Linked DNA regions of Homo sapiens. The protein of the gene in region 3 purifies or fractionates together with the protein of the main gene of each other region. This does not show direct contact. Each region holds a gene or a part of one and is shown on either strand. Other genes may lie near its edges.

Region 1 (8,226 bases), on a different chromosome or scaffold from region 3:
TTGAAATGAAAACATCTTCCTAATAGATACTGTTAAAAGCTGAAAAGAAAAGCAGTACATTAGGAAGGAGATACTAGTCACATGCATACCTAAACAAAAGAACAGAATCTAGTATATACAGAGAACTCCGAATCACTGCAGAAAAGATTCATGACCCAATAGAAAAACTGACAAAGGCATTTCACAGAGGAGGAAAATTAATAATGTCGCATAATCACATGCAAAGATGTTCAGCCTCATTAGTCCTCAGGAAAATGCATGTTCTGACCAGTGAGATAGCATTTTACACTCAGTAGCTTGGCAAAAATCCAGAAATCCGGTATCAGTTGTTGGTTGGTTTTGTCAGACATGGGAAGGAGGACTGGAGAAAAAGACAGACATGCTAGAGAAAATGTCATTTACTTTGATCAATATTCCATTGTAAGCTCTCTTCAAAATACCTCCAGAGAATACCAGGACCAAAAGGAAAGATTTGGTGCCACTTTAATTTAGAAACAAAAATTCTGTTCATGCCTATGGGAAAAAACATACAGGTATCATCAGTATCAGCTTTTATTGAGAACAGGTTTTTTTCTCCCACGCTTTTTATAATCAGATTCCTGCCTCCCTTCCCACCCTACCCCACAAAATTGACCATTTTCTTGAAGGAAAATTATCTACTTTTATACTTATTTACACATTTTTCCTGTTAAGGTCTGAGGTTTCAACCTTATATGTTCTATATTTGCAGTGGTCAGATATGTGTAGTGTACCTTCAGAAAACTCTCAAAAGATTTCTTTATATATATTCCTTTCTTTCTGAAGGACAGGAAATTTACGTAGGAAATGTTTAGGAGCCCACAGCTATGAAACAACTCTACCATTTATTGACAGTCTTACTTGGTGAAAGTTGAGAAGGGAACTAATAAGGAGGTAGCTATCTTGGTTTTAATCATTACTCCCACATTTACGTGATAGGATGAAGTTGTTTTGCATCGTAGGTACTACAATGTTCTTCATTTTTCATATGTGAATTACTTTTTTAATAGACGGTGGATTCAAGCCAGTTATAATTACGGCACCAGTAAGTGCAAAGGTTGCAGACGGAGACTTTGTTACTCTGTCCTGCAATGCCAGTGGGCTGCCGGTTCCGGTCATTCGTTGGTATGACAGCCATGGATTGATAACCAGCCATCCATCTCAAGTCCTGAGATCGAAATCCCGAAAATCACAGTTATCAAGACCTGAGGGCTTGAACCTGGAGCCTGTGTACTTCGTCCTGTCCCAAGCTGGTGCAAGCTCTCTCCATATTCAGGCTGTGACTCAGGAACATGCGGGGAAATACATCTGCGAAGCTGCAAATGAACATGGTACCACACAGGCAGAAGCATCTCTCATGGTTGGTGAGTTGCCATTATTATTTATTTTTAGTTGAGTAATTTCCTTTTATAATAGAAGATAAAGTGATTTGAAATATGTTATTTTAATGAATCCAGCAATCTCTCTATATTTTTTCCTGATGACAGTGAAATGTAGAACTGTATTTCTTGGTATTTCACTTTATGTGAATCACATGAATTTTGGTCTCTGTTTCTGATGTGTTTGTTAAGATTGTAGGTGCAATACAGAAAGCTCTCATTTGGGAGCAGGCCCAGAATATAACCTGTCTTTGAGATGAATGCTTTTGGTTTTCTAAGCTACCGAAAATGATATTGCAGACATTTTTTATGCCCTTGATAACTACAGTATTGGGTCTAAAGGACTGGCCTTCATTGAGAATGTAGAGTTGTGGTACTATTAAGTAATACCTGTATGTATATATTCCCTGTGTCTTATCCAAAGTTATTTTCTAATGGGATGTATAATATTAATTCTTCATATTTTACTGATTTTTTGTGATGATGACTTAAAAACTATATATGATTTTTGATGTACTGGTATATAGACTATTAATATTCATGGAAATGGACTCAAACTTGACTTAATTCAAATTCAGACCTTCCATCAGTAGGCATTTAGGGCAGCTTTCCCCAACAGCTAGTCAGTTGGGTGTAGATTGTCATCTTATTTGTCTTGTGAGAGGCCCAACATCAAAGGCAGTACTGCCTTTAGTTTTGGGTAACTGAGGTCTCTGACCCTGGCCTCTGCTTTAAGGGGCTTAGCGTGGCTCTCTTCTGCCTGGGGCCATGGTCCCACAGGTTAAAGAGCCCATAGGGTCGAGGAGCAGTGCTTATGCTGAGCTCAGAGCCCACATTCCTCCTTCTAGACAGGTCTGGGGCTCCAGCATTTCCTGCTTCAGTGAGTTCACAGTCTGGTCCCCACAGTTCCTCTCCCCTGGCCCATCCGCCACAGTCTGGACCACACGACCAGTGTGTGGGCACCCTTAGCCAGAGCAGTGGTCAACGGGGGGTCCTTGGCAGAGGAGTGATGGTTGAAATAAAAAAGAGTTCGTATGTGCACATACGATTTCCCTTCACGTGCAAACAAGGACGCCCTTGCTCTGAATGAAGCTGGAGGCGGAGGAGAAGTGGTGGAGACCAGGGACTTCCCCTTATCCTCTTGTGCATGTTAGAGGTGGGAGAGATGTGGAGGCTGAGCACGTGGGCTGTGTCAGAATCCTGGCTCTGCCACTTAGCAGCTTTGTAACCCAAGGGCAAATCACTGCACTTCTCTGTTCTGTTTCCTCATCTGTGTAACAGGTATAGTGAAGGTGCCCCACTCATAGGGTTGATGTGAGAATCCAAGGAGTTAATGCGTAGTAAGTGCTTAGAATGGTGTCTGGCAATAGAAAGCCCTCCATTGATACTAAGTATAAAGTTATGATTGTTACTGTCTAATTATTATTAAATTACAGTGATCTCTTGTGGCAGTGTTAAGGGAAGGAAGAAATAGTTACTGATTTTAGAAACATTAAGAATCCTTAAATGAAGAAAGTAGTTCAGTGTTACATAAATTTGCACCTATAAATGAATGTGCGTGTGTGTTTATATTTCTATTCCTCTAGGCAAAAATAAGAGTGGCTCTGCTCGAAATTGTTAACTGCATGACAGGTGTAGTTGCAGGAGCTCCTTGGGTAGAATTTAGCTGAAGCGATTATGTGAATACAGGGTGTAGAGAGACAGATGTCATAGTTTTATGGCTGATGAAACTAGATATTTTGTCGAACTTCCTCACCTTAAATATGAGAAATCGGAAGCCCTTTGAAGTTATGTGAACTAACTTTAGAAGATCTTTAAGATTCCCCTGTGCTCCAGGATTTTATGTCTCGATAAATACTACTTTTATGTATGGTAACCCCATCAGCTGTATTCTACCAAAGAGGTCCTACGTTGTCTTTTTTTAATTTTCTAGTATAATTATTAAGATCCAACCGAGTTTATTAAAACTCAAAACAATACATGACAACTCACTTCTTTGCATAGGAATCTGAGCCTTATGAAATTCTAGCATCCTGACAAGTCATTTGACTACTGTACTGTAAAGGGGAGAGCAAGCTAGGTTAGAGAGAGAGATAACTCTCTCCCCAGCCTTTTGTTTTTTCCAGAGACTTTGGGTTTTTGAGGTCCTGGATGTACAAATATTTGTAGAGTGTGTGGTACTCTTTAAAACTATAATGAGAGTTGGTGCGGGTTTCCTAAATAGTTTGGGTTGTGAGTTGCTGGCAGCAGTGGTCACAGTGGGAGCATCTTTGACAGATATGGTTGTACTCCCTCCCTGTTTAATTAGTTTCCACTTAGAGTCATTAAATTTATTTACATTGCCGTAGTTGCATCAATCTCTTTTCCGATTCAAAAAACATTCTACCTTAAAAGATGCTAGATGCCTGTTCTACCCATTTCATAGAGTTCTGAAGATAAGTTGAGATAATACATGCAAAAACACCGGGGAAGTACTGGTAAGGTCTTTTCAGTTGTATTGAGTGTATCTCCCAAGTGCCCAGATTATATCATTGAAACAGAAGAAGAAAGTTAATTGAATCCCCCTTTTAATAAAAGTTCTGGAGAGGTCTCATTGCATCTTAAGTCTTACAGAAATGGAATTTTGATACTCAGACAGTGGAGAAGCTGCAGCATTAACGTTTTTCTCATGCTTCTGTATGAGGCATGTGGCATTTAAACTCTTTTACAGCCAGATCCCACTTCCCAGTGGAAAACTGCCCGGAGGATCCACTAAACTTCTAATGATAAAAAGGTCCTTCTCCACTACCTCAAGCCACAGTTAATTATCTCCACTTGCCGAGTCCTTCTGTCTGCATTAGCAGGCACCAGATCACACCCTGAACATCAGTCCGCAGTCTGACTCACTAGATAAACACTGCTGTTCCAGGAGCAATATTTTGAAGTTGTCTCAGTGAACTTAATTAGTTTTCTTCTACATTATTTCCTCACTAGCTTCTTGTTTTCTCTGATGGAGGATGCTTCTGGGACACCCTTTCTCTCTTTTAAACTAACAGAGAACTAACCTTACACTGTCAGTCCTGTTTTCTGTTGGTTCTCTACTGCAGTGCAGCCCTTCTCCCAAAAACACACCCATCTTTTACCAGGAATCTGACTTCATTTTGGACATAAAAGTAGTACGTTGTTTGCTCTGCACTCTTCCTCCACAAAAGGAGTGAAAAATAGAATTTTCTGTTGCCAGTATTAATAGCACTTTAGAGAAACCAAGCCGTCACTCCTTAGGTTTTATTGTGCTGGCAGTATATTTGTTTTCATAAATTGTTCTTTCTTATTATTTTTTTTTTCACAGCAGCACCATGAACATTCTTCTGGCAGCCTTCACTTAGTCTCTCTGAACCTTAATTTCTTCAACTGTAACATGGGAGTATTACCATCTACCTAAGAATGTTTGGAGAATTAAATGAGATTATGTTTATAAGATAGTACAATGCTTGGCACATAATATGTGCTCAGTAATTATCTTTGACTGTATGCAACCTATTTTTTTTTTCAGTGCAAAGAAATTATTTTTATCTTCCTCTGTATATTCTGTATGCTGTTAGTAGTAAGTGTTAAGGCTGCCTGCTTGTTTTATCTTTTTAAATTTTTTTGAGAGGTGTAGTTGCAGGATCCCCTTGGGTAGAAGTTAGCTGGCCTGTTGCCCAGGCTGGAGTGCAGTGGCACGATCATGGCTCACTGCAGCCTCAACCTTCCCAGGCTCAGGTGATCCTCCCACCTCAGCCTCCCAAGTAGCTGGGACTACAGGTATGCGCCACCACGCCTGGGTAATTTTGGTGTTTTTTGTAGAGATGGGGTTTCACCATGTTGCCCAGGCTGGTCTTGAACTGCTGGGCTCAAGTGATTCCCCTGCCTCGGCCTCCCAAAGTTCTGGGATTACAGGTGTCAGCCACCATGCCTGGCCAACTTGAAATCTTCTGAGGTTAAACTGGCAAATGATTATTACTAAAAAGAATACTCTTAGAGAACAAGGAAAAAATAAGAACGTTTAACTGCTACACTATTGCATCATATAATTGGTTTTTCAAGTAATTCATTTGCTCCACCATGAGAAAAGATTGCAATTAGAGGTTAAACATTTCCATGAATTATAAATGGCAGTGTTACCCGTTTTAACTTCTGGGGCTCAAATTGTGCTAACAATACAAGTGAGGGCAGTCACGTCACAAACTGGGTAGAAGACAATGAAATGAGGAGTATCTTCAAGCTGTCTCCTCTCTCTCTCCCTGCAGTTCCTTTTGAAACAAATACAAAAGCAGAGACAGTCACACTTCCTGATGCTGCTCAGAATGATGACAGAAGTAAGAGAGATGGTTCAGAAACTGGGTTACTGAGCTCATTTCCGGTGAAGGTCCATCCCAGTGCAGTGGAATCAGCACCAGAGAAAAACGCCAGCGGCATCTCTGTTCCTGATGCCCCCATCATACTGAGCCCCCCACAGACCCACACACCAGACACGTACAACCTGGTGTGGAGGGCAGGCAAGGATGGTGGGCTGCCCATCAATGCTTACTTTGTGAAGTATCGAAAGGTAATGTCTTGTCGTTTATCATCTTTCTCGGCTCACACCTGAACGTTCTTTGTATAACATATACTGTTGCCTTTTCATTTGTAGAATGGCAGGAAACAGAACAAGAGTCTTCCAGACTGATGAGTTTGTCAGAGAGATCCCAGTCATGCTGGATTTACCAATCCTAGGAAAGCACTGAGAATGAAGTATAATTTCCCCCCAAATTGGAATTCTAGGAACCCAATGATGTCTTTACATGTGTATTCAAATGTTTTAGCCCTTCAACATAAAGCTCTATAACCACTTTTAAAACACAAATTCCTTCCCTCTCTAAGGTAGTAGAATACCATTTATGTAGCAAATAAAGCAGTTTCTTATTAAAAACAACTGTTTGAACAGAGTTTCTGGCATAATTTATGCCAATTGTTTGCATTTCAAGTTTTTTTTTGTTTGTTTGTTTGTTTTTTTTTTTTTTTTTGAGACAGGGTTTTGCTCTGTTACTCAGGCCACAGTGCAGTGGTGTGATCTCGTCTCACTGCAACTGCTGCCTCCCGGGTTCCAGCAGTTCTCGTGCCTTAGCCTCCCAAGTAGCTGGGATTGCAGGCATGCACTACCACACCTGGCTAATTTTTTTGTATTTTTAGTAGAGATGGGGTTTTGCCATATTAGCCAGACTGGTCTTGAACTCCTGACCTCAAGTGATCCACCACCTAATCCTCCCAAAGTGCTGGGATTACAGGCATGAGCCACTGTGCCCAGCTTCAAGTTGCCTTTTTAATTGTATTAAAGTCATACATTGTTAGGTCATTTTTGGTGGTAAACCTTGGGCCTCTCTCAGTTAACTCTTCAAATATCATTTTCCCCATGGGCTTGTGTTGGAGCAGAATGGAAAAGCTCCTCTCTGTTTAATGAGACCAGTACATGAATGAAATGGGAGGGATGCATTCCATATTTAAAATCATTTTCTTTGTCCAAGAAATTTTAGTATACATTGTTGAATGGTAATGTTTTTAATGACTAGGAAAAATAACATGATGATATTTTAATATGATGATATTTTAAGGTTTATGTACTATTTCCAACCTGATGAATGATTCTAGATAAAGAAGTTTTGCTAGTAATCTCATCTACCCTAATACCTCCATGCAATATTGTTTCTTGGTTCCATTAATCAAGAAACAACTGATTAGATCTTTTTATTTCCTCTAACACATATTGAACAGTGTCAAGACATGAAGCAAGAATGCTGGAAATATACATAATTATATAATTCATATACATATAACATAATATAATATTGTCTTAATTTACCATGTATCTATTATGTGTATTATATAATTACCAATGATACCTATTATTTTATACTTATTTTATTCTTCATTAGCCCAGGAAGAAAGAAGGCATTGTTTCCATTACAAGTAAAGGAAACAGAGTCTGGGAGGGCAGTAACTTGCTTGAGGCCACACATTAGTGGTCAGATGCAGAGCCAGGAGTCTTTCTACAGTGAGAATTGCAGCGTTCTTGCAGCAGATCTTCTATTTCTTAATATGAAGAAGTATTGTGTCTTTTTTACTTACCATGCTGTATTACTTCTTAAAACTCTTCTAGAATTAAATGAATCCTAGTTTTGATCAAATGTGACCGAAAGATTTCCTATCCTCCATCTCCTGCTTTTCTTTTCTGGTGTGTTTTCTCTTGGGCAGCTGGATGATGGGGTTGGCATGCTGGGAAGCTGGCACACGGTTCGAGTCCCAGGAAGTGAAAATGAGCTCCATTTAGCTGAGCTGGAGCCATCTAGTCTTTATGAAGTCTTGATGGTAGCAAGAAGCGCAGCAGGTGAAGGCCAACCTGCCATGCTTACCTTCCGAACCAGCAAAGGTGAGTGAGGGCTTCCTTTGGAGGAATGAGCTGGCTGCCCTGATGTCAATTTATTAGTGAGAATTATTAATTTATTTTTTTTGAGATGGAGTCTTGCTCTGTCACGCAGGCTGGAGTGCAGTAGCACAATCTCAGCTCACTGCAACCTCCGCCTCCCCGGTTCAAGCAGTTCTCCGGCCTCAGCCTCCCGAGTAGCTGTGACTACAGGTGCGTGCCACCATGCCCGGCTAATTTTTTGTATTTTTGGTAGAGACGGGGCTTCACAGTGTTAGCCAGGATGGTCTCGATCTCCTGACCTCGTGATCCGCCCACCTCAGCCTCCCAAAGTGCTGGGATTATAGGCGTGAGCCACTGTGCCCAACCAGAATTCTTTTGGATAGTAGAAATTCCTATATGTAAATTCAC
Region 2 (8,226 bases), on a different chromosome or scaffold from region 3:
GCCAAAATGGGTAGATCACCTGAGGTCAGGAGTTCGAGACCAGCGTGTCCAACATGGTGAAACCCCATCTCTACTAAAAATACAAAAATTAGCTGGGTGTGGTAGTGCACGCCTGTAATCTCAGCTACTTGGGAGGGTGAGACAGGAGAATCGCTTGAACCCAGGAGTTGGAGGCTGCAGTGAGGCAAGAGCATGCCACTGCACTTCAGCCAGGGCGACAGAGCAAGACTCTGTCTCACAAAAAGAAAAAGAAAAAGTGAAAGAAAAAGAAAAGTATTTGTTGATGATCAAAAGCTCCTTTCGGGACTTTACAATACAAAGTGAGTAGCAAGCCCAGAGGAGACGATGCTACAGAAACTCACTCAATCAGAAGCATGAAGTGTGGGTGCTGCTAACAACAGTCACGGTGAATGGTAAGATGGTGTGTAGCTGGCACACCTTGAGTGGCACCCACCAGCTGGGAGCGGTGTTGCGTGCTGTGTGATCGCGGTCTTTCCTCACGGTGGCTCGAGGCCGTGGCTGCTGTGACCCTCTCTTCTGAGTTGATAAACTGCTTCGGGGCCATTCAGCGTCTCATCTAGGGCTGTGAAGTTGGATTAGAACCAGGCTCTGAAGCCTGTGTTTCTTCCCACTAGATAATACACATTGATTACAGTGCTGGGGGAAGATGAGGGTGACTGCTCGAGGCACTTTCTAGATCCACTCATTCATACCACTGGCCTTTTTCCTAAGTAAAATCACATTTCTTTTTATATGTTATTGTCCCCCAAAGTTTACATTAAACCCTCAGCACCCCAGAATGAAAATGTATTTGGAGATAGGGTCTTTAAAGAGGTAAGTAAGGTCAAATGAGGTCATATGGTTGGGCCCCCATCCATATGACCCCAGTCCAGTATGAATGGCGTCCTTACAGAAAGAGGAAATATGGACACAGACACCAGAGATATGTGTGCACAGAAGACACACCACGTGAGGACACAGGGGGAAGGTGCCGTCTGCAAGCTAAGGAGAGAGGCCTCACAAGAAACCAACCCTGCTGACACCCTGATGTGACAATTCCAGCATTTACAACAGTGAGAAAATTAACTGTGGTCTAAGCCACCCAATCTGTGTGTATGTGTGTGTGTGTGTGTGTGTGTGTGTGTGTGTGTGTGTATGTGTGTGTGTGTGTTTATAGCAGCCTGAGAAAACTAATAAAATCTTGAAATACAGAAGTGGTTTAAACACATTCAAATAACATTATGTCTGAACACTGCTTCCAAATGACCCCTGAAAACACAACCACATCCTGCCTTATCCATCTTAACCTACAGTTACAGCACTTCGTCAAACATACTTAGATTTCTGGAAGAATATGCAGCAGTGCATATTAACAGGTTTTCTTAACTGCCAATTTAAAAGCATATAGATTTATGTTTACCCACTCTGATGAAAGGACTCACAAGCAGAGAAATTGCAGGTGATAAAAATGTGTGTACTACCATGCACCACACAGTAGAATTTAAGCTTTCTGCATCAAATTATTGTCCATTCATAGGTATTTTTGTCCTCAAATTGTAGCTTGGAGGAGGCTCAGTTAATGCTATCGCTGAAGTGTGTGTTGAGAAAAGTGCTCTAAATGATTAGAATTTGAGCTTCCCCCAACCCAGCTTGGACATGTGACTTCACCTCCTCTCGTATGCACAAAACAACCTAGGGCCGGAGAATCCAATCTGTCAGTGATGTCCTTGTAGTCCTCAGAATACAAATACAGCTTCTACTCAGACATCAACACGACGCCCGCCTCTTCCGCCCCAAGCTCCTGCTGTTTTCCTTTGTTCCAGGCAAATTCTGTTTTCTCAATAAAAAGCCCAGACAAAGAGTTCAACCGCCCTCTGCAGTATAGACAGTGTTCTGTTAGACACTCAGAATGCCAGAGACCAGAAGATCAAAGGAGAAGGACGTGGGACTCTGGAACAGGAACTAGTTAAAAATCTGATACAGCCTTAGAAGGCAGGCCATCATTAAGAATTGGTAAACAGGTTTCCCTAGAGGCCAGCTTTATCCTATGGGTTAGGTGGAGGGAATTCTTTGAATAAAAAATAGCTGCCTAGATTGCAAAACAAAACAAAACAGAACAAAAATCTCACAACCAGGTCACTTAAAATAGTGTTTAGAGAATGACTGACTTTTGTTTCCCTGAAATATAAATGATTGAAAAGCTTGTTTATTCTTCAACTTTCCCCCTAGCATTTGTGATGCACATGCTGAGGCAATGAACTAGCACAGAAGTCGAAGATAAAACAAACATTACAACCCAGTAACATGTAAATGCAAGAAAGTGAGAGTATCAGTTATGAAAGGCACCTTTAATACCAGGGCTAAACTAATTTGTTATAAATATTCTGGCAACATCTAATGTTAAACTTAAAATGTTTTGAAAACATAAAAATCCTATAGCATCCTGGGTCACTTACTCCTTAAGAAAATACCTCATTGTGGCATATGATCTGTTTCATTGTTAAAAGAATTTATTATAGAATTGTATCACAGAGTTGATGGTGTGACATACTTTTAAGCCTTAAAAACTAAAAATGATTATAAGTATACTTGGTATCTCATCCACAGTAGTCTCAGTGAATTCAACTTCCCTTTGGCTGAATTCAATAACTAATATTGATTGTCTACCATATGCAAGGCACTGTGCCTTGACATGCAGACCAGGGACCAGCACTACCTACACTGACATTGCAATCTCTCAAAAAAGATGAGTCTTAGCTCACACATCTGGCCCTAAATTAGAGCCAGTTGCCAATTTCTTACTTTATATTCAATAGATATCAAATGAAACCAGTATAGAAAATGTGTCCCCTGAAATAATGGGACTGAAGGAAACCAGTGTCTTCCTAAGTGAGATTACTTTCCTAAAATTAACTTACATTTTTTCAAAAAAAAGGAAGTAAAGATAATTTTATGACACTTCAATTTAAAAAGAAACTCCCAAAAATCTCAATCTTGCTTATATTGAATAGAATCATTGAAAAATGTTCTTGAGAAAGGACTATTACCACTGGGTCCATTTTGAAGATGAGGTCTTATATGTATTCCTTAAATTAAGAGGAAACCACACACACACACACACACACACACACACACACACACACTCTCTCTCTCTCTCTCTCTCTCTCTCTCTCTCTCTCTCTGTCTTTCTCCTAATACTTACGTGCATTCCCACAAGCACACGCCCTGTGTTTTCTAGCCTGTAACATATGAAATCACTTCCCGGGCAGATTTTTGGGTTCAGACATCACCTATGTTCCATCCCCCTTATTTACTAGAGGCACCTGGGCACATCACCATACCAGGTCTCTCTGTAGCCACCTACATTACTAACCTAGATAATGTCAGTTTAATCTTGCTATGCTTCAGTTTCTCCCATCTGGGAAAACAGAGAAAATAATACGCTGTCTCTCTAAAAAGCTGAGTGAGAGGATAATAGAGATGAATTATAGAGCCTCTGTAAAGAAATCTGAACTCCTTGTGGTGAGGAACTCCACACATAGAAGGGGCAATTACTGCGATTCAAACAGTAAAGGAAAAATAAAGCAGATCTATTAACGTTTAAGAAATTAAATCACAGGCAATTTATTTTTGGTAGCATAAAATAAATTGATAAGTCAACAAATCAAACTAAAGATAAAAGCTGAAAGTAATTCACTATTTTATCTAAGTCTCTTAACTAAAATATGAATGACAGGTTTTAATCCAAGAAAAAGATAAGTAGCCAGCATCTCTTATATATTATTCTTTACTTAAGTTTCATAATAAGATGTCAACTATTCATTAGTTTTGTTTATATAATTTTGTCTGAAATCACTGCTTTCCCTTAAATATGGAACATAGACATGAAACAGATCCAGAGAGCTCCCCGTCTCCACCCAGGAGGATTACATTTAAGCAATCTAGGCAGCTCTTATGCTGAGGACCTAAGAGAGAATGATCATTATTTCATGATAATAATCTATACTAAAAGAAAATTCTTCTAACCTAACCCCTTGGCCCCCATTTTGAGCAAATAGCGTTCTCTTCCCAACATAATGCAAAACCCAAACTGAAATGAACCTACAAAAGCTAACACTTGGCTGGGCGCGGAGGCTCATGCCTGTAATCCCAGCACTTTGGGAGGCTGAGGATGGGCGAATCACGAGGTCAGGAGTTCGAGACCAGCCTGGCTAACATAGTGAAACCCCGTCTCTACTAAAAATACAAAAATTAGCCGGGCATAGTGGCGCATGCCTGTCCTAGCTACTCGGGAGGCTGAGGCAGGAGAATCGCTTGAACCTGGGAGGCGGAGGTTGCAGTGAGCCGAGATCAGGCCACTGCACTCCAGCCTGGGCAACAGAGCAAGACTCCATCTCAGGGAAAAAAAAAAAAAAAAAAAAAAAAAAAAAAGCTAACACTTTCTGAGCACCTACTGCTGGCCACCGTGTGAGGGCATTTTAGTTCATTCAGCCCTAACAACAAATCCAGCAGATAGGTATTATCCACTTCTGATAGAAAAGGGCACTGCAAGTTTTAAAAAGTGTAGTTTTGCCCAAAGAGGCACAGCTAGTCAAGTGAAGAGCTTGGATTCATCAAGAATACAAGTGAAAAAATTCCTACCAGATTGCTTCAAACAAAAACACTGCCAATTTTAGAGTACAGTCATGCATTACTTGATGACAACAAGGATACATTCTGAGAAATGCATTGTTAGCTGATTTTGTCATTGTTTGAACATCATAAGAGTGTACTTACACAACCCTAGATGGTAAAGCCTACTATACACCTAGGCTATGTGTGGTCTAGCCCGCTGCTCCTAGGCCAGAAACCTGTGTAGCGTGTGACTGTACTGAATGCTGGAGGCAATGGTAACACAATGGTAAGGATTTGTGTATCTAAACATAGAAAAGAGGCAGTAAAAATATTGGTCGGGTGCAGTGGCTCACGCCTGTAATCCCAGCATCTGGGAGGCTGAAGCAGACGGATCACTTGAGGTCAGGAGTTCAAGATCAGCTTGGCCAACATGGTGAAACTCTGTCTCTACTAAAAATACAAAAATTAGCTGGGTGTGGTAGCAAGCGCCTGTAATCTAGCTACTCAGGAGGCTGAGGCCGGAGAATCCCTTGAACCCGGGAGGTGGAGGCTGCAGTGAGCCGAGATCGCACCACTGCACTCCAGCCTGGGTGACAAGAGAAAGACCCAGTCTCAAAAAAAAAAAAAAAAGGTATAATTTTATGGGACCATGGTCATATATATGCAATATGCGGTTTGCTGACTGAAACACTGTTACATGGCACATGACTGTATGTACATTTATGTTTACCTAATCTGACCCCCAAAAAATCACTAGCAGGGCACCCAAAGGTGACATAAATGTGTACTATTGTGCAGCACATAGCATAAACTTCCTGAACTACATTATTGCCAATTTGTAGGCATTACTACCCCTTTAAATTCCAGCTTGGAGGAGGCTAGTTAATGCTATCACTAGAGAGTGGGTTTTGAAAAGTGTGCTCTAGACATCAGAATCTGTGCCGTGCCCACCCTCAGTCTGAATACGCAATGTCACCTCCCCTGAAGCTACTTCAAAGGGTGAGTAGATCATCTGGAAGATGATTAAGACCTCATTAGAGTCATCTGTTTCATTGATACTGTCTGCTTTTAAATGACTTCTTTTCAATTTTGGCTGAGTGGAATTTTAATGAATCTTATCAAAATCATTAAAAAAAACCATACATAACAAAGAAAAACCCAAGTATTCGGTCATGGTCTTACACTAAATACTGCGCGACAGGAAATGTTCTTATTCAGCCCAAGAACTTAACAGATACCCTAGTAAGGTCCCTTTAAAAGAAATCTGGCAGCTAGGTACCTTAGCATTGAGGGGACACACAGACAGAGCACTTCTGAAAAGCTGTTCCTCACTCCGCCACTCGCCGCTGCGCAGCACACATCTCAGCGTGTTGATGAATAAGATTCCCAGCACGACAGCGGCAATGAGTTTCTTAAGAACAGAAAGACATGGTAATTGTCACCAGTGAGATGCATCCGGTCATTCTGTTCATCAGCTGGCACCACTCTCAGTTGATACCTTTTTCTTGGTATGTTTGCTCAGGGCTCCGAATCCAAAAGTCAGCAGCACACAGTACCCAACGCTGGGGAGGTAGAGGACACGCTCTGCGACCACGAAGCCCACTCGGAAGAACAGGTTACTCGCGGGGAGAAATGGGATAACGAGAAATCCCAGGCCCAGAGTAAGGATCCTGGATGATGAAAAGTATTTAAATAAATGGCTATTTCCAGACTTCTCAAGAAAAACATCCTACTCCACATTAAATTAATGCTAAAGACCTTTTCTTTTCCATGGCATCAACTGAGAAAAGATATTGTTGTCAGCCAAAGGATATCATCAGTAGAGACAGTTTAGCTTGGTAGCATGTGGATAAGGCACAAAAATATTCCTCTGGCACTTCACAGCGAGTCTAAGGGTAAAACTCAAAAGCCATACAATTCGTATGGAGAAAATTAGCATGATCGCATTTCTGAGGCCTTATTAATTCACCTACTCCTCACTATGCCTCAAACCATTTAGGTACTGAACAGTTCAGTGGATATTGTTGGTCTCAATTAATTCAAAAACTGTCCCAATCAGTTTTCACGGGGAAAAAAAAATTCCTCCAAAATGTAATGAGAATAATAACACTTAAGTAAGTTTAAAGTTTATGAAATTTGAAATAAACAAATACCATTTTTTGGTTGCTACATCACCACCATAAATTTCAGTCAGGGAGATACGAAGCTGAGCATTGAAACACTTCTGGAACCACCTGATCATTCCCAATGTCCCCTATGATGCAAGAGGATGAATTAAGACTCTAGGTCAATTTTGGTGGCTCCTTCTTGGGCCCTGTGGCTACAGTATTTCTATAAAAATCCCATTTTCTGTGGATAAGGGAACTGGGACTAAAGTTTGTGGCTCCTTAGAATTACTAACCAATTCAACACACAGGTAAACTTAAAACTTAATTTATTTTGAGACATTACTAATCTAATTCCATAAACACTTAGGCTTAAAGGAAATCACCTTAAACAGTTTTCTTTTTCATGAAACACATTTGTTTTCCCCAATTATTTTCTCAATAACTTTTTTTTCCATCAAGAAAGAACAGTCTCTTTGGGGCAATGGCTTATTTTGTACCCAGCTACAACAGAGGGAATCATGGCAGCGTTCACCAGGGTGTTTTGAGGAAGAATTGTGCAATAATGGGCACAACACACATCAATTACACTCTCTGTTCTGACCGTAAATTACTCTTTACCACCTATGGTGAAAAGGATCGCAAAATGCTACTTCCTAGGGAAAGGGGAAGGGAGGGATGAAGCAGTCATCCGTAGCTCCTCTTCCAGCCTCGCTCCCCACCCGCGGAAGCCAGCCATGGATTCCAAATGGATGGAACTCATCCTAGCCATAAATATGCATTTGAAACAAATGTCCTTAGACGTGACTTCCACAAAATCATAAAAATGATCAGCGCAGGATTTCACAAAACGCTTCTGACTCAACCAGCGTGGAACTTAAGATTCAGTGCTGCCTCTTACCTTCTCTTGTGGCCGTCTTCAGAGCACAGGGCTTGGCATATCAGGCCAATTAGGCAGAACCAGAGTGCTGCAAGTGCAATTACCCTCCAGTCGCTGATGGACTTAATGAGGGGGATGCAGCCCATTGACCAATCAAAACACAGCCACCAGGGACACAGCAGCAGCCAGGCATTCAATGAATAGTAGTAATTGTAGTTTACGGCCTGCCAGTCAAAAGGAGAACAAACATCTATTTGATACTGAACTTAAAAAACACATATATACGCACTAACTTCACTTTGGAGGCACTCATATGCTTCTGCTCAATGAAAGCAGTTGTATCAAATAAAATGTTGCCAACGTGTATTGGGTATGTGACTATAGTCTGTAAAAATGTATTAAATGTATTCAGATTTTGGTATATAAAAATATGGCAAAGCCATCAGACTATGCAATACATTCGTTATATTTCTGGCAAAGCTATGATCTATTTGCTGCCTGAAGCCTGTGACCTCTAAATCTGAGGACCCAGGGTCACCTATACACCCAATAACATAACAGGCTTCGATGGCTGTTCTCTTGATTTTGGTCTCTATGAAATGCACAGCTAAGAATCTGTGGCTTGAT
Region 3 (6,348 bases):
ATTATTCATTTTAAAAATCATTGTAAAAATAGTGAACATGCCAGGCACTGGGGAAGCATCTTATGTACATGATCTCATTTAAGCCTCCAACCAATCCCCTCAAGTAGATAATTATTACCTCGAATTTACAGATGAGCAAACCGAGGCTCAAAAAAATCAAGTAGCCTTCCCAGAGTCACCCAGCTCACCAGTGATTGAAGGGGAGCCAAACCCTGAGCCAGCCTGTCCTCTATGGACTTCTTACCACTCATTGGCGTTTGGTGTGTTTCAATACCCTTTCACCCTGGGAACCAGGTCAACTCTTTAATATGCTAACAATTGCAATGAAAACAAAAAGATTTTTTTGCAGAGAAATAATTAGCTTTGACAATAAATACATAATGTGAACTTGAATTCAAGAATCTGCTAGCGCCCCCCGCCCCTGCTGTGGACATTGGTCAGCCTCCTTTGGTAACACACCCCACGGCAGACCATCCCTGTGCTGTGGTTTTCTATCTATGTAGTTAACACTGTTTCTCATGTGCTCCATCTGGCTGCAGACACACTGAAGGTATGGCAGGGACTTCTCTTTCCTTGGTTAAAAAATATTGCTAATGTTTATTGGGCACTTTCTATGTGCTAGGCCCTGTTCTAAGTACCTCATGAGAAAATCTTATGAGATAGGGGCTATTCATTATCCCCATTTCATAAAGGAAAAATGTGAGGGTCAGGGGTGTTTCATAATTTGCCCAAGGTTGTGCAGCTCGTGGATGGTTATTAACACAGGCAGTGTGGCTGTAAATTTTAGAGCTGTGTTGTTCAATGAGGTAGTCACTAGCGACAAGTGGCTATTTAAATTTAAGTGAATTAAAATTAAATAAAATAAAATATTCAGTTCTGCCATACCAGCCACATTTCAAGTGCTCACTGGCTATGTATGGCTGGGGGATATAGCTTTGGATTCTATCTCTATTGGTCAGCTCTGGCTGGAACCTGTGGGGTCAGTTCCCACACGGTCCTGCTTGCCCACAGCACAAAGGGTACTGAACACAGGGGCACTGTAAGGAGTTGGGGGTAAGGAAAGAGGAGGGGCAGAAAAGCCTTTGCTGCTCACAGGCTGGACTGCCATGGGGAGACTGGGATCTTGCTGCTTCAGATCTGCTTCAGATTGCTTCAGATTTGCTGCTTCGGATTCAGATTGCCCCACTTGAGAATGCGACCATGATAATGTTTTCCTGGTTGCATGAACTCACTGAACCTCACAACAACTCCACAAGATACGTACTACTGTCTCACCACTTCCTAAGAGGAAACGGGAGCTTAGAGAGGTTAAGCCATTTTCCCAAGGTCACACACACTGCCCCTAAGCTGCAAAGCTGGGAAATCAAACCCAGGTTGGCCCAGTGCCCACCTGCAGCTAGAACTGGTGGGTGATGCTGGGTGAATTCAGCATCACTTTTCAGCTGTTCTCATACGCCCCAGTGATTTTCTCATTCCAAGCTTCACTCCTTCTGAAGCTCTCTGACCCATGTAAAAGGAAAGGCCTGATTCTATAACACCAAGAGTTCCATCCAACCTTATAGCCTCAGAGTCTCAAGGAACTAAGGTTTGCATTTCCCAAATGTTGAAGGTTAATATTTATGTTCATTCAATCATTCAACAAACATTCACTAAGTCCCAGGCATGGGGCTAAACCCAAGGATCCAGTAGGGCAGGAGCCCAACAGTGTCTCACAAGCTGCACAGTCCAGAATGCAGGGCAGAGATTCATTTATCAGTACAATAAATGACTACACATACTTCGGAATAACTTGTTCAAATTACATAAGTAATATTTGGTTAATATAGAAAAACATAGATAAACAAAAAGAGAATGGATTGCTTCTGCCCAGAGGTAATTTCAGTTAACATTTTGACATATCTCCTTCCAGTCTTTCATTCTGTGCGCAGATTTTAAAGTAACTCACCTTAGGCAAACATTAGATAAATGTTAAGTAGATGTTGTGCTTTTTTTTTTTTTTTTAATTTTTTTAAGACACTGTTTCTTAACTCCAAGACTTATAATTTCTTTCCTCTGGCTTGGTCTCTACCATCAGGCCTGGGACTGGTTTCTTGAAACAGGATTTTCTGTTAAAGGGATGGGAAAAGAAGGGTGACTGTGGCATTGCAAATGTAGGGGCCAGTTTTTTGAATTCCCAGCCACCAGGCTGACTTGCCACCGCCACTACCCCAGTCCCTCTCCTGGGACAGCCCTTGGACAGGCAGCCCCTCCCCAGCCTGACTCTAGGCCAGGGTTCCAGCAGCTTGAGAGATGATGTTGAGGAGGATTTGAGGATCTGGGGCCAGGTGGTAACAGTGCAGACCTTAGGTAGCCTGGGAATTCCAGAGGCCCCAGCTGGGCACCTGGAGTATCCAGGGGGAGGAAGGGCCAGCTCTTCAGAGAGAGGGTAGGGTGGTGCCATCATAGGCTTCAAAGTCATCAGACCTGGCATCAAATTGAGGTTTGGTTGCCTAGCAGATGTGTGACTTAACTTCTTTCAGCTTCAGTTTCCTCATCCATCAAATGGGAATAATACTCTTGACCTCAAAGGTTTGTGAAGTTAAATGAAATAATTATGTAAATTGCTCATCACGTAAGTACCTAATATGTGGTCCCTATTATTATGGATGGGAACCAAAAAAGGCAGCGCTAAGTCAGGAACTCCAGCCTTGGCAAAGAAAAGGGATTTTCCCTCCATCCTCAGCTAGTGGAGCCCTGAGGGGAGAAGGCGCCCTGAGGGGTAAAAATCCTGGATGAAATATAGAAGACACTGAGACTGGAAACACACGCCCAGATTGGGAAATTCTTCAGAAATCGGCAAATTTCTACTTCTAGGCCTTCTCCTCCTCCTGCTGCTTCCCCACTTGGTTCGCCCGGGTGTGTCAGTCGACTGCTTTCCTACCCAGGGAGCTTCCCTGTCAGGGCCTCTTCCTTCCTGTCCCCGTCTGGCCACTCTGTCTGTCCCCTGCCATTTCCCTTCCCTCCTTTGTCCACTGCCCTTGCCCTGCTCATTGCCCCACCCTCACCCGCCTGGCCCTTCCCGGAGCCTGGCCCTCACTGTGTCCCCTCCTTCCCCCACAGGTCTGGCCCTGGACCGGCTGAGCGCCCCTGACCCGGCCTGGATGGCGAGACTCTCTTTGCCCCTCACCACCAACTACCGTGACAATGTGATCTCCCCGGATGCTGCAGCCACGGAGGAGCCAAGGACCTTCCAGACGTTCGGCAAGGCAGAGGCACCAGAGCTGAGCCCAACAGGCACGAGGCTGGCCAGCACCTTTGTCTCGGAGATGAGCTCACTGCTGGAGATGCTGCTGGAACAGCGCTCCAGCATGCCCGTGGAGGCCGCCTCCGAGGCGCTGCGGCGGCTCTCGGTCTGCGGGAGGACCCTCAGTTTAGACTTGGCCACCAGTGCAGCCTCAGGCATGAAAGTGCAAGGGGACCCAGGTGGAAAGACGGGGACTGAGGGCAAGAGCAGAGGCAGCAGCAGCAGCAGCAGGTGCCTGTGAACATACCTCAGACGCCTCTGGATCCAAGAACCAGGGGCCTGAGGATCTGTGGACAAGAGCTGGTTTCTAAAATCTTGTAACTCACTAGCTAGCGGCGGCCTGAGAACTTTAGGGTGACTGATGCTACCCCCACAGAGGAGGCAAGAGCCCCAGGACTAACAGCTGACTGACCAAAGCAGCCCCTTGTAAGCAGCTCTGAGTCTTTTGGAGGACAGGGACGGTTTGTGGCTGAGATAAGTGTTTCCTGGCAAAACATATGTGGAGCACAAAGGGTCAGTCCTCTGGCAGAACAGATGCCACGGAGTATCACAGGCAGGAAAGGGTGGCCTTCTTGGGTAGCAGGAGTCAGGGGGCTGTACCCTGGGGGTGCCAGGAAATGCTCTCTGACCTATCAATAAAGGAAAAGCAGTGATTCATTCTCCTGTTTGCACCTGTCAAGAGGGAGAAGGGAAGAGTAATAGAGTGGGGTTTATTTGTCATCCAATCCCTGGCAAGACCGTCACACTGGGCCTGGACAGGAGTGGGGCACCTTGGTACACAGTAACAGGTACACAAATAGCAGACATGTGTGCTCTTACCCCTGTTCCCCTATCACTATGTTACCAACTAATCTGCTTCTCAGCTGCAAAATTAGAGCTAAGAAAGCACAACTATTTATAAAGCATTTACATGAGCCAGGCACCAGGCTTTACAATAGGATTTAATTTGATTTTCCAACAATCCTGGGAGGGAGGTATTATTAACCCCATTTCACAGACACGGATATGGGGCTTGGAGAGGTCAAGTGGCTTTCCCAAGATCAAGCAGGGAGTAGAGCCAGAGCCAGGATTTGGACCCAGGCTGGGCCAACACCAAAACCCATGCCTTCAACCTTGACACCAGCCTGCCAACCAAAGACAGGAGAAGGGAAGGCCCTGGAGGTGAGCTGTTGGCAGCAGTGAACTTGCTCGAGCTCCCTCGGGAAACACTGTTGAAAGGAACATTTCCAAAGCCATCCAGGCCCGCACCTCTCTACATTCCCAAGCACAAGGCAAAAGGAACTTGGATCTGAACTGATGCAGACCCGTTCTTTCCCAACAAGTAGCTCTTCAAGTGCGGATGTCATCTTTCCCAACCCCATTTGCGGGTAAACCTTCCTCTGTCATTGCAGGTTCAGGCTTGTGAATCCCAGAGGACGCTGTGTGAACTGGGTCTATGAAATCGGCACTGACAGCAGCCAGCCTTCCAGGGGATGGGGGAGGGAAGAAACAGCAGATATTTTCCCAAGGTTCAGCTTTATAATTTTCTTGGAAATTTCCGAGCAGCCAATCAGCTAGCTTCTAAATAGTGTGGGTCTCTCCTGGACACTGCAGGCAAAAGTTCCTCTATCTGCTCCTCTTTTTGTCCTTTCTTGGAGCTCAGTGCTCATGTTCACTGTTCAAGAAATGGGCCAATCATACTCCCAACTAGGGATAATGTGCATCATACATACTTGGAATACAGTGTGGTATCATTATTCCATTTTACAGATGAAGAAAATGAGGCTCCCCAAAGTTATGAGTTTCAGGGGCAGAGTTTCTCCTCACCTCACTCTAGGCCAGAGTGATCTCCTTACAGAATCTGTGATTTTCAGGCTGGATCACAGAACTGTTGGGTTCTGTGGGCCAGTGAGAGAAACTGGGGGATATCAAGCAGGCAGGCAGGGTCTCCAGCCTGACCAGCCAGGTGCCTGCTACAAAGCAACACTTGATGAATAGCTGTTGAATGGATGTATGAATGAATAAATGTGTCAATAAATGCTTCAGAGGCCCCTTTTATCCATATTGGAGCTCCAGGTAGGACTTCATTAGAAAAAAAGACTCTGTGATGTAAAAGCAAAGTCTGAGAACCACAGTACTGGAGTAGACCATGGTGACCTCCCAGTTACCAGCAGATTTTCAGTGCAGAGCAGATGTTGGGAGGGTGGAGAGAAGAGAGTGGGCAGGGGGAGATGACCTGAGGAAGCTGGAGCTATAGCTGGCAACTGGATCACTAGACACATGGGACCATTGCATCATTCTAGTTCAAAAGCCCTAAATCTGTACTCCTTGGGCACCCTGAATACTAGGTAAAACTTTGTGTCTAGACACTTTTTTAGGCAGAAGATACAAAATTCTCATCAGATTCTCAAAGGAAACCTTGACCTTTAAAAGGTTACACAGCATTGCTTTAAGATACTATCTAAACATCCACAGACATGGGCAGTTGTCATAAAGAGTCTGAACTTTATCTATTTCAACTCTTCATTTTATAGCCAAGAATATAGAAAGAAACGGCAGATGACTTGCCCAAGGCCACCTGGCAGGTTTGTGGGGGAGAGCTTTCCAAATTAAGACATTTAACTGAGTGCTTGCTCAAATCAGGATTTGGATCTGGGATTTAGTATGGTGGTCTTTTTAATACATCAAGGATTCTTAATCTGACGTCTTTGGTTAGACTTCAGGATCTATGAACCTACTGAACTACATGCAAAATTGGGAGGATATGCATTTTTTCTATGGAAAGAAGTAGGTGCTTAGATCAGATTCTCAAAGAGATTTCGGGCCCAATTAAGATTAGAAAGCACTACAATCCTCTAGGTCAGCCCTCAGCCCTGCCTTCCCTGCAGAACCTGGAGAACTCCTGCGTAGAGCTGCTCCTGTTCTGAACTTTGATCAGAATGGGGGTGTATGTACGTGAGGGACAGTGTTCTCTCCTGCACCATGTGTCCCCTCCTGATGAGCTGATACCAGCACCTTTCCCAATAACAGCTCAGAGTGAGACCGTGTCTATGGTAACAGAACTGGGTGTGTTGAACAGGAAGGTT
Region 4 (8,226 bases), on a different chromosome or scaffold from region 3:
TGCAGTCAACAAGTTGCAATTATGACATTTTAAACCAAGGAGAAACTTGGAGTGTAATGGCAAGTCTTCATACTGTAGAACAAAGACACAACTCCTAGTGTGGCAAGCATGGTCCTCTTCAGTCTGGTCTCAATGAATTGTATGAGTTTAACTTCCATGAGTTGTCACCACTTATACCCAATTACTCACCATTACAAAATCTGCCAAGCTTTCTCATCTCTTCGCCTTTGCTTATGTGACCAAAGTTTTCCTTACATCTTCCCCTATCAAAGTCCTTCTCAACCATCAGAGGCCACGAACATATAGTGTTCCCTTTACAAAGCCTTTATTACTGCTTTGAAACCCAGTTTGGCTCTGTTCTCTATACTTCCATTAAGTCTTCATTTGTACCTCTGTTTCTAGCCTGCCTTTCATCTTTCAACAAATATTTAGTGAACTCCAAATCAGTGTCAGGTTTGCTACTAGGTGCTGATTTTATGGGCTGTGTGTTATAGTCAGCATAGTACCTCTACCTCATTGACTTATAAGGTCATTATTTATCTCTGCATCTCTCATCAGTGCTTGGGACTTAGTAGCTGTACAATAAATACTTGTTCAGTTGAGTTGGAATTTTCTCATACAGATCAGACTATGACAGTAAGATTTTTATAAAGATTGTTTTCCATCAACTGGATGAGAAATGGAATAGCACTTTTTAAAAATATCTGCTGCTATAGTAAATTCTCTCTGAAGAAACACAACTACTATCTCATGGTTTTTCAATTTATCACCTGCTGTCTAAAGATGCTTGATTTTCCAACATTTATGCCTTACTGTCTCTTTATATAATATTTACCTAGTCATCATCTTTATTTTCTTCCAGAAGTGACTTAAGATTTTTTTTTCTTAAGGTGATAGGCCCTAGGGGAATATTTATATCCCCTCAAAATATCAATCACGTTAACTGCAAATAAATGGATAATCAATTAGATTGACCACTCTCTTGTCTAAACTAGTCTCAAGGCTGGCTTGAAAAACTAGGCTAATCATGCTATAGTCCAATTATTTTAGTCATATAAATCAGTTCTGAATGTTCAAATGCAGTTAGAAGAAATTTATTTTCTTTCATCTTTTCTTCTCCAAAATATTTTGACTATCTTACATTTCAGAGTTAGCACTTTGAACAGATTTTCTGCTTCACAGATTTGGATTTGTCCTTAAACCCAAGTGGAGAAGTGACTAGACAGATTGGTGATGCCCTACCCGTGTCATGCACAATATCTGCTAGCAGGAATGCAACTGTGGTATGGATGAAAGTAAGTAATATTTTTGGTACTACCCTGCTGTTTGGTTTGATTTCTTTTTAGGTTTCTTATGCACTTTATATTGTATTCAAGTAGGTATATTCATGGATGTGTTTATATACCAGCTCTCTCTCTCTCTCTGTTTCTGATAAGAGAAATAAAATAACAATAAAATTTTAGAGGTGCTCAACACGGTGACATCCATAATTGGTATTCTGAAACTTAGTTTGGGGTGTTATGTCAATTATGTGTATATACTAATTATACACACACCACACGCATGTGTGCACATACAAACATAGTTATATACCACAGGGCTTAATAATTTACAGTGTGTTTTTGCCCACATTATCCTTACGTGATATTTACAACAACCCTGTGAAATACAAAGATTATTATTTTCCCCACATTCTTCATATAAAGAAATTGAAGGGAAATAAATCAGAAAGCTCATAACTGACAGAGTAGAGACTCAAGGCCAGACCTTACTGAGTATGAATACTATGCTTTGATAAGACACCTTTTGTCTCTCTGCTGCTGAGACCACTCTTAAGTTTCTGAAAACAGGTTCCACTGGATCAAGGGCTCCTAGAAAGCAATCCCTTTTATCCCTGAGCTATAGTAGAATACCTGGAACATAGTAGGAGTTAATTCAGTATTCCCTGAACAAGTGCTTATACTCTTGTAATTGTCTGAAATGTAGGCCATTGGCTATCCTTTTAGAGTAAGGAAGTGTGACTGATAATTGGTGATTTGAGACAAGGTTATCACCAAAGGAAAAGGTTGTGATTGCGATCCCTCCACTTAAACCCTTGGCTAGTATATCCAAACTCCCAGTGCATTTGTTACCAGAGCATGACATGTGACAAGAACCCTTAACCCATGATGGGTTCAGAAAACAACACATACCATTTGAAATAGGAGTTGACAAGAATTACCTTTATAAGAAACTGTGGAGAAATATTTTTCTAGAGTTTCTTTTTGATGGAAATATATTGATGAAATTATTTTGTATTGCTTTACTGCCTGCCTTTTGATCCTTTTTAACACTCGATCCTCTGCTACTTGTTGTCTTACTCTGTGAGCTCAGTTTCTTATTGTACTCTCTTTCAGCCACAGCCTCATCACAACTTGTTCACTAAAATAAAGTGCCACTTCCTATGCTGCAATCTAGCATGATATGTTTGTAGTAATCAGTGATCACAAGGCTAGACAAGTTCTAGGCAACTAGACTAATTCATAATCATTTGAACACTCATTGCATGTTTTACTATAGGACTAGAGAAACTAAGTTTACTGTGGTTTAAACTGTTTGTACAATCAACTGCAATCACTGTTATGAATTAACTGTCATGAACAGCTCATGTATTCAAAATAGTGATGATCAGTATTCCCTGATTATTGGTTAGTTAATGGGGAGTGGGAAAAAATATCCTAATGGACAAAGACCACATAATCTTAGGATTGTGTCTAGTTGCCTGCTTAGGAGCATTTCAATTCCTGACATAATAGGATTATTTTCTGTATATCAGGCTATTTTTTAAAATTAAATGATACATTTCCTTTGTTCATAGAAATTGGAATAGAACGCTTTCCAAATTATAAATTCAGTAAATGAAAGAGCGTGAAATAAAAATCTGACATGTCTGACTCTAAAACAACAAAAGAAAAAGGAAATCTATTTTGAAAGCATCTGAAGTTAAGAAAAAGAAGTTTGCATTTATATTATTCCCAGAAGAATTGTTTTAGGCTTAATTATTATCTAATAAATACACTGAGAATTTTAATTCTGCCACATGAGGTAATTTACTTTTTATTTAATCAGGATAACATCAGGCTTCGATCTAGCCCGTCATTTTCTAGTCTTCATTATCAGGATGCTGGAAACTATGTCTGCGAAACTGCTCTGCAGGAGGTTGAAGGACTAAAGAAAAGAGAGTCATTGACTCTCATTGTAGAAGGTAATAAAATACTTGGGCACTAATTCAAATTGTTCTTTGAGAATTTTTTACCTGGTTTCTTTTATGATCTCAGTTCAACATCTTATTTTAATTGTAATATTTCAGGCAAACCTCAAATAAAAATGACAAAGAAAACTGATCCCAGTGGACTATCTAAAACAATAATCTGCCATGTGGAAGGTTTTCCAAAGCCAGCCATTCAATGGACAATTACTGGCAGTGGAAGCGTCATAAACCAAGCAAGTATTTGTCTTCTTGTTATATGCTGCACTTCGTCCAATGCGTTTTTTTTCCTTCACGAACCTACCCTATAGGTTGGTTTGTTACCACATAAAATTTGCAGTGTGTAGGTTGGTTTGTTACCACATAGAATTTGCAGTACATGCTCAGAGGAAGCTTTTGCTAACTTCTTAATTTTCCTAGAGGAAGAACATGGCTCAAAGAGAAATTTTATCCCAGGGCCATGGAGAAGGGAAGAACCATTGTGTCATGGTCAGTATCTGTTTTTAAAAGAATATAAATTAGGTATTACTTCATGATCATTCATTCCTAAAATGTGAGTGATTAAAACATTAAGATATACACTTTCCTGCAAAATAAGCTCATGCATCTCAGTATAAGTGAACTCTAATACTGTGCTCAACTTATGCACATTAAGGGGTGTTACTTCTTAAAACTATGTCCTCGTGTAGGAATGGTGGAGAAGAACACAGTTACTGCTTATGAATGTGTGGTCTGACATGCCTATGCAGTGCTAGGGCCAGAATAAGGCAAGCTACATATATAGTGCCTAGGATGTGCCCTTCTGAACAAAAGGGTCATAAACCAGACCTTAATATTTGTACCTTTTTATTTTAGTAATAGTAAAGGGTTAAGGATTTGTTAACACTACCTGTTATTTTCTTTTACTATTAAGTCTTTGACCCTCCCCTTAAAGGAAAAATGAGAATCTGGCCTACCACTAGGGATTCAGAACTGTAATCCCAGTAATTTGCCAATCTGCTTGGGTTGCTGACATACTTGCTAATTCCATTGTTCTCTACAACAGTCTTCGTGTCTCCCTCTTCTCAGTATAATCTGTAAAGGCTTCTCAGGAGCACCCAGAGGTACCACTGGATTATTTAAATCTTCTGTACTTCTCAGATTTTGACCCAGTTGAAATTTGAGAAGACATATATAAAGCAAAGAGCTGTAAATTAATTTTAAGTTAAAATCTCCACTCTTCCTCTTTCTAGGGAAGTTGGGCCACTGTCCCAGCTTACGCCATGCAGTTTTGCAGTGCAAAGTGGATTTTGGCTCTTTCAACTATAGGTGATGCATATATAGCTGCATAACTCTAGATATGGAAAGCCCTCAAAAGAGTAGGCACACGTGAAGTGAATGACTCCTGATTTGGTTAAGTGTGATGGGGACACACAGTAAGAAAGCATATAAGAGGAGGCAAAGAAGCTCTGGGCTCCTCAAACCTAGGAAAATGCAGTTTTCTTGATTTGGAATAAAGACTTGAACCATCTAAATTGCTGACAATGTGCAGATCTATTTTTAGCATCAAAAATGGTGGTTTCTTTTCTACTCTATTGTTTTTGCTCTCTAGTTCAATTAAGTGATAACTGCAGCAAAAAAGAACCTTTAGGTACTGGTAATACAGACATAGAAAACAGAAACATAAGCAGACAGTAAGTTTTTGATTAATGAAAAGATATGAAGATTTAAAAGACCATCCTAGAAATGAGAAAATATATTTTGTAGAGTTTAAAGTAACAAAAACAAAGATTCCGTGAGAAAGTCAGATGAAAAATCCTAGTACGAAGTGAAAAAATAGCAGGTAAATTTACTGTGAGGATAAAAATAATAATGCCATCTTTCATTGTCAAGGAGAAAGATTGATTCTGGCCCACTGGGTGATATGTTATTTTTCTTGTTCTGGGATTTGTGCTGATGCATCCATAATCACAATTTTATTTGTTCCCTTCTCAGATACATGGTGAATCTGTTATTTTACAACTAGAAGATGTCTCTGCCCCTCCTCCACCCCAGCAACTAGAAGATAACCAAAACAGGAGAATAGCTCTTGTCCTCAAGGCACTTACCATGTAGTTGAGGAGAAAGCAAACAATATAGAAAGAGAAAAATGTAGGGAATGAGTTCATAAGATGACCGAGAAAAGAGTGCAAGTACATTATTTGCCTCAACCTTGTTGGGTTTAGGAGTCAAATCCTAGGGATGAGATTAAAGTAAATTGTATTTTATATTTGAAGGAATTAAATGCAGTGATTACCCTCATTAACACCTCACAAACATCAGAGGGACAGCAATCACTGAAAAATCATCCATCCTCTGTATTTACAACAGAAAACTTTAGAAAAAAATGGTTTCATGTACCCATGAGCAAATTATACATACATACATACTTTGATATAATGGTTTAAGATAAAGGAATTAATTCCCACAGTGAAGAACAGTGACTAAATTTATAAATAATTAAATTCATATATTTATTGGTGGAAAGTTGGTGTTTAAATAGTCACCAATTAATTATTTTGAAACAAGTATCATCAGGCCAAAATGTTGACTAAACCTGAGATTCTATTTAAAAAGAAGAGTTTAATTAACTTAATTATTAGAATTCACAAAAGAAACATAAACAGAAATTTCATTATGGATTTACTAATCTTTGTAGATATTGGCATACATGGGTCTTGATCTATGATCTTACATAGCTTTTGAACACCAGAATGCTCTATAGAGCACCACGCCTATCCTATTACAGTCATCATTACTCTTTCCTATGCTTTTTAATCCATTTTGATTTCTAAACCCACCTTTTTTCTTCTTTTTCCAGACAGAGGAATCTCCTTATATTAATGGCAGGTATTATAGTAAAATTATCATTTCCCCTGAAGAGAATGTTACATTAACTTGCACAGCAGAAAACCAACTGGAGAGAACAGTAAACTCCTTGAATGTCTCTGCTAGTGAGTATTTTATTTCTGGCATTACAAAAGTAAGAAAATTTGAAGTTATTCTTCATTAGTTTAAAATCTTCAATTCCATCTTCCTGTACTGCATTATGGTAAGTTTTATTTATTTATTTTGCATTTGGTATCATCATCATAAGGTTATTTTTTCTTTTTTCCTGTCCATTCTTGTACTATCCTTGTCTTGACAGTTAAATCATTTCATGTTTTATGGGTCAGAGGCCTTATCCTGTACAGGAATAGTTCCCAAAAGCAACAGAGAATAAAAAATAAGTTTCTCTTATTTAATTCATGTTTTATGTTCAGAGTGGAGATAATTCAAAGATCATCTTAAAACATTTTTGTAACAGTTTTAAATTTGGTAAATTTGTAATTCCCTTTGATCTATTATTTTGCCTTCTAATTCTTTGTGGTATTTATCCTACCCTTATGTTGTACTAGAATGCCACAAGCTTAAAGTCATTTAGTAAACTAGCAAGAGTGATTTTAGAATTCATGAATCTAGTTTACAAAACTGTTCCTTTTGTCATATCATATTTAAACTATAGCCGAAAATCAGATAAGTGAAACTATCTCAGAGAATGTGGAAAAATCTGTCGATGTTGAAATCAGGGTAATACATACATACCAACAACAGCTTCTTCAGAAAACAATTGTCATTTAATGTGAAATTGTCCATAATCTTCAATTCTATAGTTGTTCCTATTGTTTTGTCAACCTTAAATCAGGACTGGCCTAGAATGAGGCTCAGTTCTGGACAGGATGCTAACTGACCTGCCAAACTTTTATTCTTCATTCAGTTGGAAACCTGTATATGACATTAGCAGGCTAGGACTACACTAGCTGGGAATTAGCAAGAGCTAGGAGAAAATAATCATCAAAAAATAATGGTCCCTCACAGATTATGACTGGAATATAAAGGCCTAATGGATTGACAGGATAAAAGAACCAAACAAATTTAACTCTAAGATAGAAGCATTGACTTCTCAGAATGCAATTCAGTGAGTATTGATTTGTCCCACCTAGGAAGAGAACCTACCCTTTCTTCCTGAACACAAGTTTCTCTTTTTATGTTAACCCATTGAATGGTATGCTTCAGTTTTCTAGGCCTTGCAGTGACTTTATCAACATTTAATATAGTCGTTTTCAAATTCAGTGAGCACCTCCTGAGATGCCAATTTAGCATGTATGAGGAGAGGTCCGGGAATCTGCATTTTATCAAATGTCACTGGCAGTTCCGATGCATGCCCATGCACTTTGAAGTTTATTTATAGAGTTTAATATTAGATAATAATTCAACACAGTGGTAATTCTTAAAATGGACAAAGAGCATGGCATTATCAGAGTCATTTGGAGAGCTTTGCAAACATCATGTATGTTGCTTCTTAATCTCGGAGGTATCCCCAGTTTTAACCTCTACTCCTACTACTTTGAGAACATCTCTAGTGGTAAGTCCTTGACACTGGAGGATGACAATGAATTCTCCTATATCGGGCAGGAAAGTTGAGAAAAGTTGATAAACATCACACTGTAGACTTCCTAGGTGCCGACTTGCTTCCCTAAAAAAAGAATGACTATTAAAAGGTGGTGGATAGTGGGAAAATCAATATGGATTTCAGATTAATTCTATAGGTCATCAGTTATGAAATTTTCTATGGTAGATTAATATCTTTGCAGTTGTAGCTCCTCTCCTTAAAACAAGATTAATTTCTTTGTAGGCAAGGTCATACTTTATTAAGTGTGATTTTTTTTTTTTTACTGTTAGCTATAGAATAGACATTTTATCTTTGAGTATTATTACATCATACTATAATGGTAAAGGTGACTTTCATATATCAACAAATTTTGTTTTTAATTTCATATTAACATTTTTCATTTCAGTAAGTATTCCAGAACACGATGAGGCAGACGAGATAAGTGGTAGGTACTATGCTGCCGACTCTTCTTCCTTGACTATCAGCTCAAGATTTATGAAGTGTCATGGTATAAGTAATTTTCTTAGCT

Evidence for each region.
Region 1: the proteins of PCDH12 (region 3) and CDON purify together in Homo sapiens (affinity purification with mass spectrometry; 2 studies listed by BioGRID and IntAct, with this or other methods). This does not show direct contact.
Region 2: the proteins of PCDH12 (region 3) and TMTC4 purify together in Homo sapiens (affinity purification with mass spectrometry; 2 studies listed by BioGRID and IntAct, with this or other methods). This does not show direct contact.
Region 4: the proteins of PCDH12 (region 3) and ALCAM purify together in Homo sapiens (affinity purification with mass spectrometry; 2 studies listed by BioGRID and IntAct, with this or other methods). This does not show direct contact.

What each region holds. Positions count from the first base shown.
Region 1 is NC_000011.10:126,003,497-126,011,722, reverse strand, and holds part of CDON (cell adhesion molecule-related/down-regulated by oncogenes isoform 2 precursor), read left to right. Parts: intron 1-1,028; coding exon 1,029-1,382; intron 1,383-5,665; coding exon 5,666-5,964; intron 5,965-7,646; coding exon 7,647-7,821; intron 7,822-8,226. UniProt on the Homo sapiens protein: Component of a cell-surface receptor complex that mediates cell-cell interactions between muscle precursor cells. Promotes differentiation of myogenic cells.
Region 2 is NC_000013.11:100,628,912-100,637,137, forward strand, and holds part of TMTC4 (protein O-mannosyl-transferase TMTC4), read right to left. Parts: intron 7,824-8,226; coding exon 7,621-7,823; intron 6,285-7,620; coding exon 6,113-6,284; intron 6,026-6,112; coding exon 5,894-6,025; intron 1-5,893. UniProt on the Homo sapiens protein: Transfers mannosyl residues to the hydroxyl group of serine or threonine residues.
Region 3 is NC_000005.10:141,942,557-141,948,904, reverse strand, and holds the end of PCDH12 (protocadherin-12 precursor), read left to right. Parts: intron 1-3,099; coding exon 3,100-3,524; 3' UTR 3,525-5,324; downstream 5,325-6,348. UniProt on the Homo sapiens protein: Cellular adhesion molecule that may play an important role in cell-cell interactions at interendothelial junctions. Acts as a regulator of cell migration, probably via increasing cell-cell adhesion.
Region 4 is NC_000003.12:105,544,041-105,552,266, forward strand, and holds part of ALCAM (CD166 antigen isoform 1 precursor), read left to right. Parts: intron 1-1,182; coding exon 1,183-1,295; intron 1,296-3,108; coding exon 3,109-3,244; intron 3,245-3,349; coding exon 3,350-3,483; intron 3,484-6,086; coding exon 6,087-6,219; intron 6,220-8,103; coding exon 8,104-8,142; intron 8,143-8,226. UniProt on the Homo sapiens protein: Cell adhesion molecule that mediates both heterotypic cell-cell contacts via its interaction with CD6, as well as homotypic cell-cell contacts. Promotes T-cell activation and proliferation via its interactions with CD6.